2 separate regions of the Homo sapiens genome follow, and region 2 is linked to region 1. Evidence: fine-mapped expression QTL. A gene starts in region 1. The other region holds a variant in brackets. All regions are shown on one strand. Distances are from middle to middle. Region 1 holds the start of TBC1D31 (TBC1 domain family member 31). Region 2 overlaps TBC1D31 (TBC1 domain family member 31).

Region 1 (5,390 bases):
AGGTGCAGTGGCTCACACTTGTATTCCCAGCACTTTGGGAGGCCGAGGTGGGTGGATCACTTGAGGTCAGGATTTCGAGACCAGCCTGGCCAACATGGTGAAACCCCATCTCTACTAAAAAAAAAAAAAAAAATACAAAAATTAGCTGGGCGTGGTGGCGCAAGCATGTAATCCCAGTTACTTGGGAGACTGAGGCAGGAGAATCACTTGAACCTGGGAGGCAGAGGTTGCAGTGAGCTGAGATCACGCCACTGCACTCCAGCCTGGGCAACAGAGCAAGACTCCATCTCAAACAAACAAACAAACAAATGTATAAAGGTCCATACTGTGTACCTTTATAAATACATATGAAAGTACATATAAATAGTATACCTTTACACTATACAAAGGTATACTGTATACTAAAGGTATATTTATATATAAATAGGTATATAGTATACCTTTATATATAAATAGGTATGTAGTATACCTTTATATATAAAGGTATAAAGTATAGGTATATAGTATACCATATATATAATAGGTATATAGGTATACTTATACTATATACTTTTATACATATAGATACCTTTATATATGTATATATATTTTATATATATAACATATGTGTGTGTGTATGTATATATATATATATATATATATATATATATATATATATATATATATAAAAATAGTATGTACCTGTTACTGAGTGACTAATGATTCAGAAAGGAACTAGAACATAAGGGACTACCAATTAGTGTTGTAAGTGTATACATGTGTGTGTGTATATCCATATATATACATTTGGATATCCAAATATATATGTATATATATTTATCTGTACATTATTTATCTGTATATATACAGATAGATACATATAAATAGTATGTACCTGTTATTGAGTGACTAATAATTCAGAAAGGAACTAGATCACAAGAGACTACCAATTAGTGTTGTAAAAACTGGGAGATCTAATGAGTAGAACTTTAGCAGCTGTGGGTACACATCTCTTCAGCCTGACCTTCAAATTGTGCCCCCTAAATCAAAAGATAAGTACAAAGTGGGAGTCCAGAAGATCTAACATATAAACCTCTTTATCACATATCTGAGATTGAATAGGATGGCCACATGGGCTGAGACAGCCCAAACTAGCTTAGCTGCAGACAGGTTAAGCTAGAGAAGTTAAGAAAATCATTCAGCAGATTCATCTTTGCTTCCGATAAAAAAAGGTTGTTTGGTTAATGGTGTGGGATAGAAATGTTGTGAAATAATCTGTTTCAGGTTAGGCACTGTATCTTAAATTTAAGATTCTAAGTTTCCTAAATAATAATGCAAACATTGATACATGTAGTTTATCTCCATCTCAAAACCAATAAATAAAAATAAGAGCTGCAGTTGCTTCCTCTGCAATAGGTCATTACAAGTTGTCTGATCTCTCAGAGCCACCCCTTGATAACAACATAAAGTTTAAAAACCTGCATTAGTATTTTTTTTGAGAATTTGCTTTTCTGATCAAGAGTTTGAACTTTTCAAATACCACGACCATATAATTTTTTTAACATCATTTTTCTGTTGTAGAACAACATAGAGACTAGGAATGGAAAGATTTAAGGTTTCCTTGTCTGCAAAAGTGGATAATATTAGTACTTACCTGTAACAGGTTGATTGGTGGCCCCCCAAAATATATGTCAACATACTAATCCCAAAATCCGTGACTGTTACCTTACTTGGAAAAAGGGTCTTTGCAGATGTAATCAAGTTAAGGATTTTGAGATGAAAAGATCATCCTGTATTCCTGTATTATTCATATGGACCCAATGACAAGTTTCCTTATAAGAGAAAAACAGAGGGAGATTTGAAACAGACAGAAGAGGAAAAGATACATCCAGGAGGAGAAAGACGTGTGAAGATGGAAGCGGAGAATGGAGCGATGCGATCACAAGCAGAGAACGCCAGCAACTCCCAGAAACTGGAATAGACAAGTAAGGGAATCTTGCTTAGAGCCTGAAAGGAGGCTGCAGACACTTTGATTTCCGATGTATGGCCTCAAGAACTTCCCAAGAATACATTTCTGTTTTTTTATGTCACCAAGTTTGTGGTAATTTGTGAGGGCAGCCTCAGGAAATTAATGCACAACCTCATAGAGCACTAAAAATGGAGATAATTAGTACTACCTAACTTGTAAATTTGCTACGAGGATTAATTGAGTTGATATATTCGGTATAGTAGAAAAGTGCCCCATACCTAGTAAGCGCTCCGGAGGCACTAAGTGAATTTTTATCAAAGGAACGCTAAAGTCGAGGCAGCCAGTTGTTGATATTATTGCTTTTCTGGACCATGATTGGTGGACTGGACATCATAATGCTGGAAGGCCTGTCAGATTACGAAACTGAAGAAACGAAACAAAACCATGAGGATGGTGAAAAGGTCAGGAAGAATGAACTATTTCATCTGTAAGTTTCATTTGAGCCCGAACGTTCTATGAAAGGAACCCATCAGTTCTCAATGTATTTGTCTCCTTGCTTCTCTGCACTTGTTTCCTTGCTTCTCTTAGTTATTTCTATACAATTCCTTAATCCCTAAAAGCAATTTAGAACGGAATGCAGGGACCACAGGAGAAAATGAGTTTTATTGCCTCTGATGGGAGCCTAAAACCCCACGAGGCTCCCAAAGGGCGGAATTCCCAAGCCAATTCCTCGCGTCTATGATCCACCTGCAAAAAACTACGATTCCCAGAAGGCTTTGGGTCCGGGGGCGGGAAGACTGAGCTCAGAAAGAGGTGGACTCTAAGAGAAGGTCTTTGGTCGATTACATTGTCCAGAGAGGGAGTGGCCGCTTGGGCGGATTTTGGGAGGGATCAGCCTTCCAATTGGTTGTTATTAGAAAGGGGGTTGGTACGGCCTGCTGGTGCTGGACCTAGGCCGCCGCGGCCGGAGCTCAAATTTCCCGGGCCGGGAGCGCTGGGCCTGCCGGGAAGGCGCTGGGACGGTTACCCAGCGGGCCGCCGGCGGTCGTGGGCAAGCTTCGCCATGCAGAGCACTGACCTAGGCAACAAGGAGAGCGGCAAGATATGGCACCGCAAGCCGTCCCCGGCCACGCGGGACGGGTAAAGGCCGTGGCGGGAGGGCGCGGGCTGTGGAGGGGATGGAGACCGGCGAGGAGGGGACGCCGGGCGTCAGGCAGCGTTCCGGGTTCTGGCTCTGACCTTGCCCCGCATCCCTGGGTTGGATGACCTGCGGTGGAACAGATGGCTCCGGACGCCAGGGTCCGCAGAGATCCCCTTCTGAGTTCTGGGAGCGGGGGTCTGGTCCGGGACAGCGCGGAGCAGGAGGAGGCCGGTGGTTCTCAGACCTGGGAACTTGCGGCTTTTGCTGTGTACCGGGACTCTCCTGCTTTTATGATCACGGTATCCCGCTAGTGTCCCTGGCACGTAGTAGGTGCTCAGTGAGTATTTAACAGTTGCAGCTGGAGCAGAACTCCAGGAGGAGATGCGGGGTGGAAGAGCAGGACAATTCTGCCTCTTCCAAAGGCTGCAGTTTATCCATCCTTAAATCCTTGGATGTGTTTAGACGCACAAGCATTCATCAACTATTTGTTGAGCTCCTACTGTGTGCCAAGCACGCCTCTAAGCGCTGGGGACGGCGATGGAACAAAACACACTTCCGGTTCTCTGGAGTTTACATATCGGCGTGTATGTAGGGGCTGGGGCGTTCATTATGCATTGCTGGGGGGCTTCTAGTACGGCCAGCGCTGCTTTTCATTCTGTTCCCAGTTACCTGTCCTGTTTGAGGCTCAGCCTGTCTTGTTTCCCTGGAAGCCTTTGCTACAAAGCGGTGCCATTTGGATTTCGATTTCTGCACGCAGAGTGATCTTATTGCTCCTAATTCCCTAGGATTTCACGGAAATTGCTTGAGTTCCTGTTTCAGTGTGTTTCTTGTTCTAGCAGTGATTTTTCTTTTCTTTGAGACGGAGTCTTGCTCTGTCGCCTGGGCTGGGGTGCAGTGGCGCGACCTCGGCTCACTGCATCCTCCACCTCCCGAGTTAAAGCGATTCTCTTGCCTCAGCCTCCTAAGTAGCTGGGATTACTGGCGCGCGCCACTACGCCCGGCTAATTTTTGTATTTTTAGTAGAGACGGGGTTTCACCATGTTGGCCAGGCTGGTCTTGAACTCCTGGCCTCAGGTGATCCGCCTGTCTCAGTCTCCCAACGTGCAGGGATTACAGGCCTGAGCCACCGCGCCCGGCCTCTAGTGATTTTTCTATTGATCCTTTGGTTGCTTCTTGACAAATCAGAATTTTTTTTTTCTCTTGAGACAGAGTCTTGCTCTGTTGCCCAGGGTCGGATGCAGTGGCGCGATCTCGGCTCACTGCAACCTCCGCCTCCCGGGTTCAAGCGATTCTCCTGCCGCAGCCTCCTGAGTAGCTGGGATTACAGGCGCACCACTCCCGGCTAATTTTTTGTATTTTTAGTAGAGACGGACCGTGTTAGCCAGGATGGTCTTGATCTCCTGATGTCGTGATCCACCCACCTTGGCCTCCCGAAGTACTGGGATTACAGGCGTAAGCCACCGCGCCTGGCCGACAAATCAGTTTTAAGTGCCTACTCTGTATATCCAAAGTGCGATGCGAGACGTTTTACCAGCAGCTTGTTTGGTTCCTGGTTACTGTCAGGCCTCTTTATCAATGCCGCTGCCTCAACTACATTGAATAAAAAATTTTCTCTAAAGTGGGGATTCCTCAAGTTTTTCATTTTCAAATTCTGAGTTTGTGTGAATACCACTCCCACCTCTGGTATTCTCTAAACATTCTAAAAGTTATAGCCCACTCGCCTTCTCTTTCTTGATGATACAAAATATCTAGATATATGTGCAAGATTCAAAAAGTGAAAGAAATGGGTTGATTATCCAAATGTCTTGTTTGCTTCTTCCACTAAAGCATAGCTTATCTTTGTGTTCGTTAAAACCCATTGTTCATGCTGTTTAGACGGGCAGAGAGCACTGACTTGGAGTCAGATGTATTTTGTTGAAGTAAATGTCCGTTTACCAACTCTGTGACCTTGGGGAAGTTAATCACTAAGGCTGTCAGTGGGGAGAATCAGATTTACCAGACAGGTTGTCTTACACATTTGGTGCTCAGTAAATATTTGATATTCTTCTTGTGTTTGAGAACTGAGGAACTCTGTCAGGCAATCTGTGAGAATCTGAAAGGAAGTTGCTCTAAAATAAATTTTTTACGTGTGATTTATATGAAAAATCGGAGGGGCAGAATGTCACTATTGTGATTACATCTACATGGTAGGATTATAATTGAGTATTTGTTTCTTAGTGTATTTCTATATTTTTCATATTTTGAACAATGATTGTGTAATTTTGTAGCCAGAACATGTAATAAGTGTTCTAGAAAATAAGA
Region 2 (5,390 bases), 45 kb after region 1:
TTATCAGTCTTTATTTGTTGTCAGTCTGAGAGTCAGTCAAAAGATGGCAACTCAGCATTGAATATGTAACTTCTGTAATTATGAAAGTACTATCCTTAGGAGAATATGTTCTTGTATTTAGGTTGATTTCTAGCCCTTCCAAAAATGAGGATTTCCTTACATTCTCTGGAATTCCATGTCCTAGGCTCAGTAATGAAGCTAATCCCTCCCTCCTGGGGTTGTTCTGAGTATTGTATCGAATAATAAAAAATGTCTGACATAGCTTATTAACTCCATTAACTATGTTAGTTCTCTATTGCTGCTATAACAAATTACCACACATGTAGTGGCTTAAAAACAACACAAATTTATCCTTAGAGTTTGGTAGGCAGAAGTTCACCATGGGTTGGATCTCACTGGGCTAAAATCAGAGTGTCAGCAGGGCCACATTCCTTTCTAGAGGCTCTGGGGAGAATCCTTTTCTTTGCCTTTTCCAGCTTCTGCAGGTTTCCCATATTTCATGACTCAGACCCACCTTTTCTGTCTTCAAAGCACCTCTCTAACCATTCCTCTGTAGTCGTATCTCCCTCTGACCGCAACCAGGAAGGGGTTCTTTGATATTAAGGACCTATGTGATTAGATTGGACCTACCCAGGTAGTCCAGGATTAATGCCCTCACCCCAAGGTGCTTAACTTAATCATATCTGCAAAATCTCATGTAAAATAATATCTTCATGGATTACAGGGATTAGAGCATGGACATCTTTTGGGGAGGGGGACAGTTTTCATTATTCTGCTTGCCACATTAACTATAAAGTATACTCAGAAAAATAATTTATATTTAAACAGTAATGAAAGGGAATTAGCCTTAAAAATATTAAAAGCTATTATAAAGCATTGAAATTGCTGCTGACATATAAATAGATATGCAGAGTCTAACAATAGACCCAGCTACATTCCAAAATTGACTTGTTTTTAAAGATGTCATTTCAAAGTAATGAAGAAAAGATAGGTTATTTAGTAAATGACATGGAATAACTAGCTAGCCATCTAGAAAAAGTTGAAAGCATACCTCATATCTTACACCATATAAATTCTGCTTGAACTAAAGATTTAATTCCTTTTTAAAAAAACAAAACCATCAAAGTATTAGAAATAAATGTGGAGTTAGCAAGTCTGAAACTACTTTATGTGTAGAAGCCACTTTTTGTATACAAATAGCTCAATAGAGACGAGAGCCAGGTTTCTTACTCTCAGAGAAAGAAGATAAATAAGCAAAAGGGCTAGAATGAATCTTGCAGTAGTTGATTGGAATCGATAGTGTTAGTTCTTAACGTATATGCAGATAAATAGACACAGAAAGGAATATAGATATGCATGTATGCAGGAGTTAGTATACATGCATATATTGCCAAGCTCTTTCTACCGAGAAGGCCTAACAATGACACCCTGGTAACAGTGAGCGCACCTACTGGTGTGGGGAAAATACAAGATGAACCTGAAGCATCTTTTAGTGCCATAAAGTAAGGAAATGCTCTGAAAGGATGGGCATGTCACAAGGGCACGTGACTCAACCTAAAAGTTTCCAGTGGCCAAAGCTGGAACAATTTGAGGAACAAAATAAATAACAATCAATTATAACTTGTAGAATAAAATAAATATCCATGAGTTCATCCTGACATAAATAATTGAATAAATAAAGATATAAATGAGGGAGAAGGGACAGTTCTAATAAATATAGAAGGAATTAGAGATATAGAAAATCACTATTGGGACACCACGGTGATAATTGTTGGAGGCAAGATCCACCAATTGATGCTAAAATTACTGGACAAAAGTTCTAGGAGTGCCTGGGCACGGTGGCTCACGCCTGCAATCCCAGCACTTTGGGAGGTCAAGACGGGTGGATCACCTGAGGTCAGAAGTTAGAGACCAGCCTGGCCAACATGGTGAAACCGTATCTCTATTAAAAATGCAAAAATTCGCTGGGCATGGTGGCATGCACCTGTAATCCCAGCTACTTGGGAGGCTGAGGCAGGAAAATCGCTTGAACCTGGGAGGTAGAGGCTGCAATGAGCCCAGATCACACCACTGCACTCCGCCTGGGTGAAAGAGTGAGACTTTGTCTCCAAAAAAAAAAAATTCTAGGATTCACAGGATATTTGCATAGTCTTAAAATATCTCCCCCAAGACAGTTATTAATGGCAAATGGAAAAATAGTAATTTTGTAGTAGATAAACTCAGCAGATAACAGCTTAACCAAGTAAGCACATTTAAAATCACTAGTACACCAGGCGTGGTGGCTCACGCCTGTAATCCCAGCACTTTGGGAGGCCGAGACGGGCGGAT[G/C]ACGAGGTCAGGAGATCGAGACCATCCTGGCTGACACGGTGAAACCCCGTCTCTACTAAAAATACAAAAATTAGCCGGGCATGGTGGCGCGCGCCTGTAGTCCCAGCTACTCGGGAGGCTGAGGCAGGAGAATGGCGTGAACCCGGGAGGCGGAGGTTGCAGTGAGTCGAGATCGCGCCACTGCGCTCCAGCCTGGGCGACAGAGCGAAACTCCGTCTCAAAAAAAAAAAAAAAAAAAAAAAAAAAATTAATTGAGCGTGGTGGCACACACCTATAGTCCTAGCTACTTGTGGCTGAAATGGAAGAATTCCTTGAGTGTGGAGATTCAAGGCTGCAGTGAGCCATGATAGCACCACTACACTCCAGCCTGGGCAACAGTGTGCAAACCTGTCTCAAAAATTAAATAAATAAAATGACTGGTAATAAGATGTCAATATGATGCACATCACTTTTGTGATATTCTTTCCAAAAATATGTAACCTCATTCTAATCATAAGTATCAGACAAACCCAAATTGAGGAACAATCTAGAAAATAACTGATATTCCTCAAAAATGGCATCATCATGAAAAATAAGGAAAGACTAAGGAACTCTCATATTGGAAGAAACTAGAGAGACAAAACACATGTAATGTTGAATCTGGGGTTGGTGAAATGAAAGAAATAACGGAAAAATGATATCAGTGGAAAAACGGTAAAATCTGAGTAAAGTCCATAATTTAGTGAATAGCATGTGCCAGTGTTAATTTCTTAGTACTGATCATTGTACTATTTGCAAGCTGTTAACATTAGGGGAATTTAGGTCAAAGGTATACAATAACTCTACTATTTTTGCAGTTTTTTTTGTAAATCTAAAACTATTTCAAAACAGAAAGTTAAAAAAAGGAAATTAACAGTACAGGTATTAGAAGTACATGTGGGAGAATTATAATCCCAGAGGTAATGAAGGCCTTTCTGAGTATGACATATCCAGAAGAGGTTGATAAGAATAAAAATCTCTACATGTAAAAATAATTTCCAAAACAAAGACTCATGTAAAACTGAAAAAACATATGCAAAACCTGACAAATGAAACGCTGGTTTCTTTAATGTATGAAGCGCTTATATAAATAAACATGTAAAGGACCAGCCAGTAAAAAAAAAAAATGGATAAACAATGTAATATACAGTTTACAGTGGTAAAATGGTTCTTTCTATTTATTTTAGTTTTTTGTTTTAGAGACAGGATCTTGCTCTGTCACCCAGGTTGGAGTGCAGTGGTGTGACTATAGTTCACTGCAGCCACAAACTCCTGGACCTAGGCAATCCTCTTGCCTCAGTCTCCTGAGTAGTAGGCGTGTGCCACCACACCTGGCTAATTTTTAAAAATTTTTTGTAGAGATGAGGTCTCGCTCTGTTGTCCAGGCTGGTCTCAAACTCCTGGGCTTAAGCAGTCCTCCTGCCTCAACCCCCCAAAATGTTGGGATTACATGCATGAGTCACTGTGCCCAGCCTAGAAATGGTTCTTAAACATGAAAAGATGCTTAATCTTTCTCATAGAAAGAGTAATGCCAATTGGAACTACGTTGAAGTACCATTTCTCACCTAGATTAAAGGTTTTTTAAAAATCATTGATAATATGCGGCCAAGAGTATGAAAAACAGGCATCCCTTTACGCGAGTCATAGGAACGTAAATAGACACTTTTTGTGGGGGCTAATTTGGCACTGACTTTCGAAATTGCAAATGCACGTATTCTTGACTCAGCAATTCCACTTTAGGAATTTCCAAGTCTGTATTCTCATGTGAAGAATGATACACACTGTGTGGCACATACAGTGGCATTAAGCACAGCATTGCTTATAAAAGACTGAAAGCAAATGCCCTACGATAGAGATCATGTTAAAGAAATGAAGGTGGCTGGGCACAGTGGCTCACGCCTCTAATCCCAGCACTTTGGGAAGCTGAGGCGGGAAGATCGCTTGAGCCCAGGAGTTTGAGACCAGCCTGGGTAATATAGTGAGACCCTGTCTCTACCCGCAAGAAAGATTAGCCAGGCATAGTGGCATACATACACCTGTAGGCCCAGCTACTCAGGAGACTGAGGCAGGAGGACCACTTGAGCCTAGGAGTTTAAGGCTGCAGTGAGCCATGATTATGCCACTGCATTCCAGTCTGGGTGACAGAGCAAGGCCCTGTTTCGGGAAAACAAAAGAAAAAAAAGAAATGAAGGTGTATCGGTACGAAGCTATCATATCCATCTGTAAAATGTAAGGAAGTTCTGCATATACTGATATAAACTATTTCCAAGATACCATTAATTGAAAAATGCAAAGTACAGAACAATTTTTATAATATACTACCATTTGTGGTTTTTTAAGAAAGGATTTATACTTTTAACAATGGTTACTTCTGGAGAGGTGAACTAGATGATAGGGGTACAAGGAAGAATTTTCACCAAATATACTTTTTGTATCAAATTTTTATCATGTGAAGATATTATTTATTCAAATAAATTTTAATGCTAAGTTATTTTATTCACAGAACCTTATCTGCATTAGCTCACTGGTCTGTCATTTTTAGTGACACACCATATCTTCCACTCTTGGCATTTCCATTTGTAAAATTATTCCAGAACAACCAACTCATCTGTTTTGAAGTTATTGCTACTCTCATAAGTAAGTAAATACTTGTTAAAGTATAAGATCAAGAATGGATTCTTATACATTTTCCTGATGTCTTTGCACCTTTGCAACATTTAACAATTCTAGATGTCTCTACTTTTAAGTCACGAAAGTGTGAAACAATAAGGTATCAAACATAAAATAGACAATTGAAGCATTTATATGTAAACCTTTTTATTTAGAAGAAAATCTGGAGGCCGGGCACGGTGGCTCATGCCTGTAATCCCAGCACTTTGGGAGGCTGAGGCAGGCGGATCACCTGAGGTCAGGAGTTCGAGACCAGCCTGGCCAACGTGGTGAAACCCTGTCTCTACTAAAAATACAAAAATTAGCCGGGTGTGGTGGTGCATGCCTATAATCCCAGCTACTCAGGAGGCTGTGGCAGGAGAATCACTTGAACC

What was found. PIP is the estimated chance that this variant, and not a neighbour inherited with it, causes the effect.
Region 2: its variant is the best candidate, but not a certain one, in a credible set for the expression of TBC1D31 in whole blood (TOPMed, PIP 0.88).

What each region holds. Positions count from the first base shown.
Region 1 is chr8:123,069,759-123,075,148 of GRCh38, forward strand. TBC1D31 (TBC1 domain family member 31) reads left to right here and starts at 2,949. Exons shown (of 22, transcript NM_145647.4): 1 at 2,949-3,088. The coding sequence starts at 3,012. RefSeq lists a silencer at 2,852-3,001.
Region 2 is chr8:123,115,206-123,120,595 of GRCh38, forward strand. TBC1D31 (TBC1 domain family member 31) reads left to right here. Exons shown (of 22, transcript NM_145647.4): 11 at 4,850-4,983. Among named protein-coding and RNA genes, the nearest start is that of TRM-CAT1-1, 39 kb to the right of the region's middle. The variant G/C (reference allele first, on the strand shown) is at 2,329.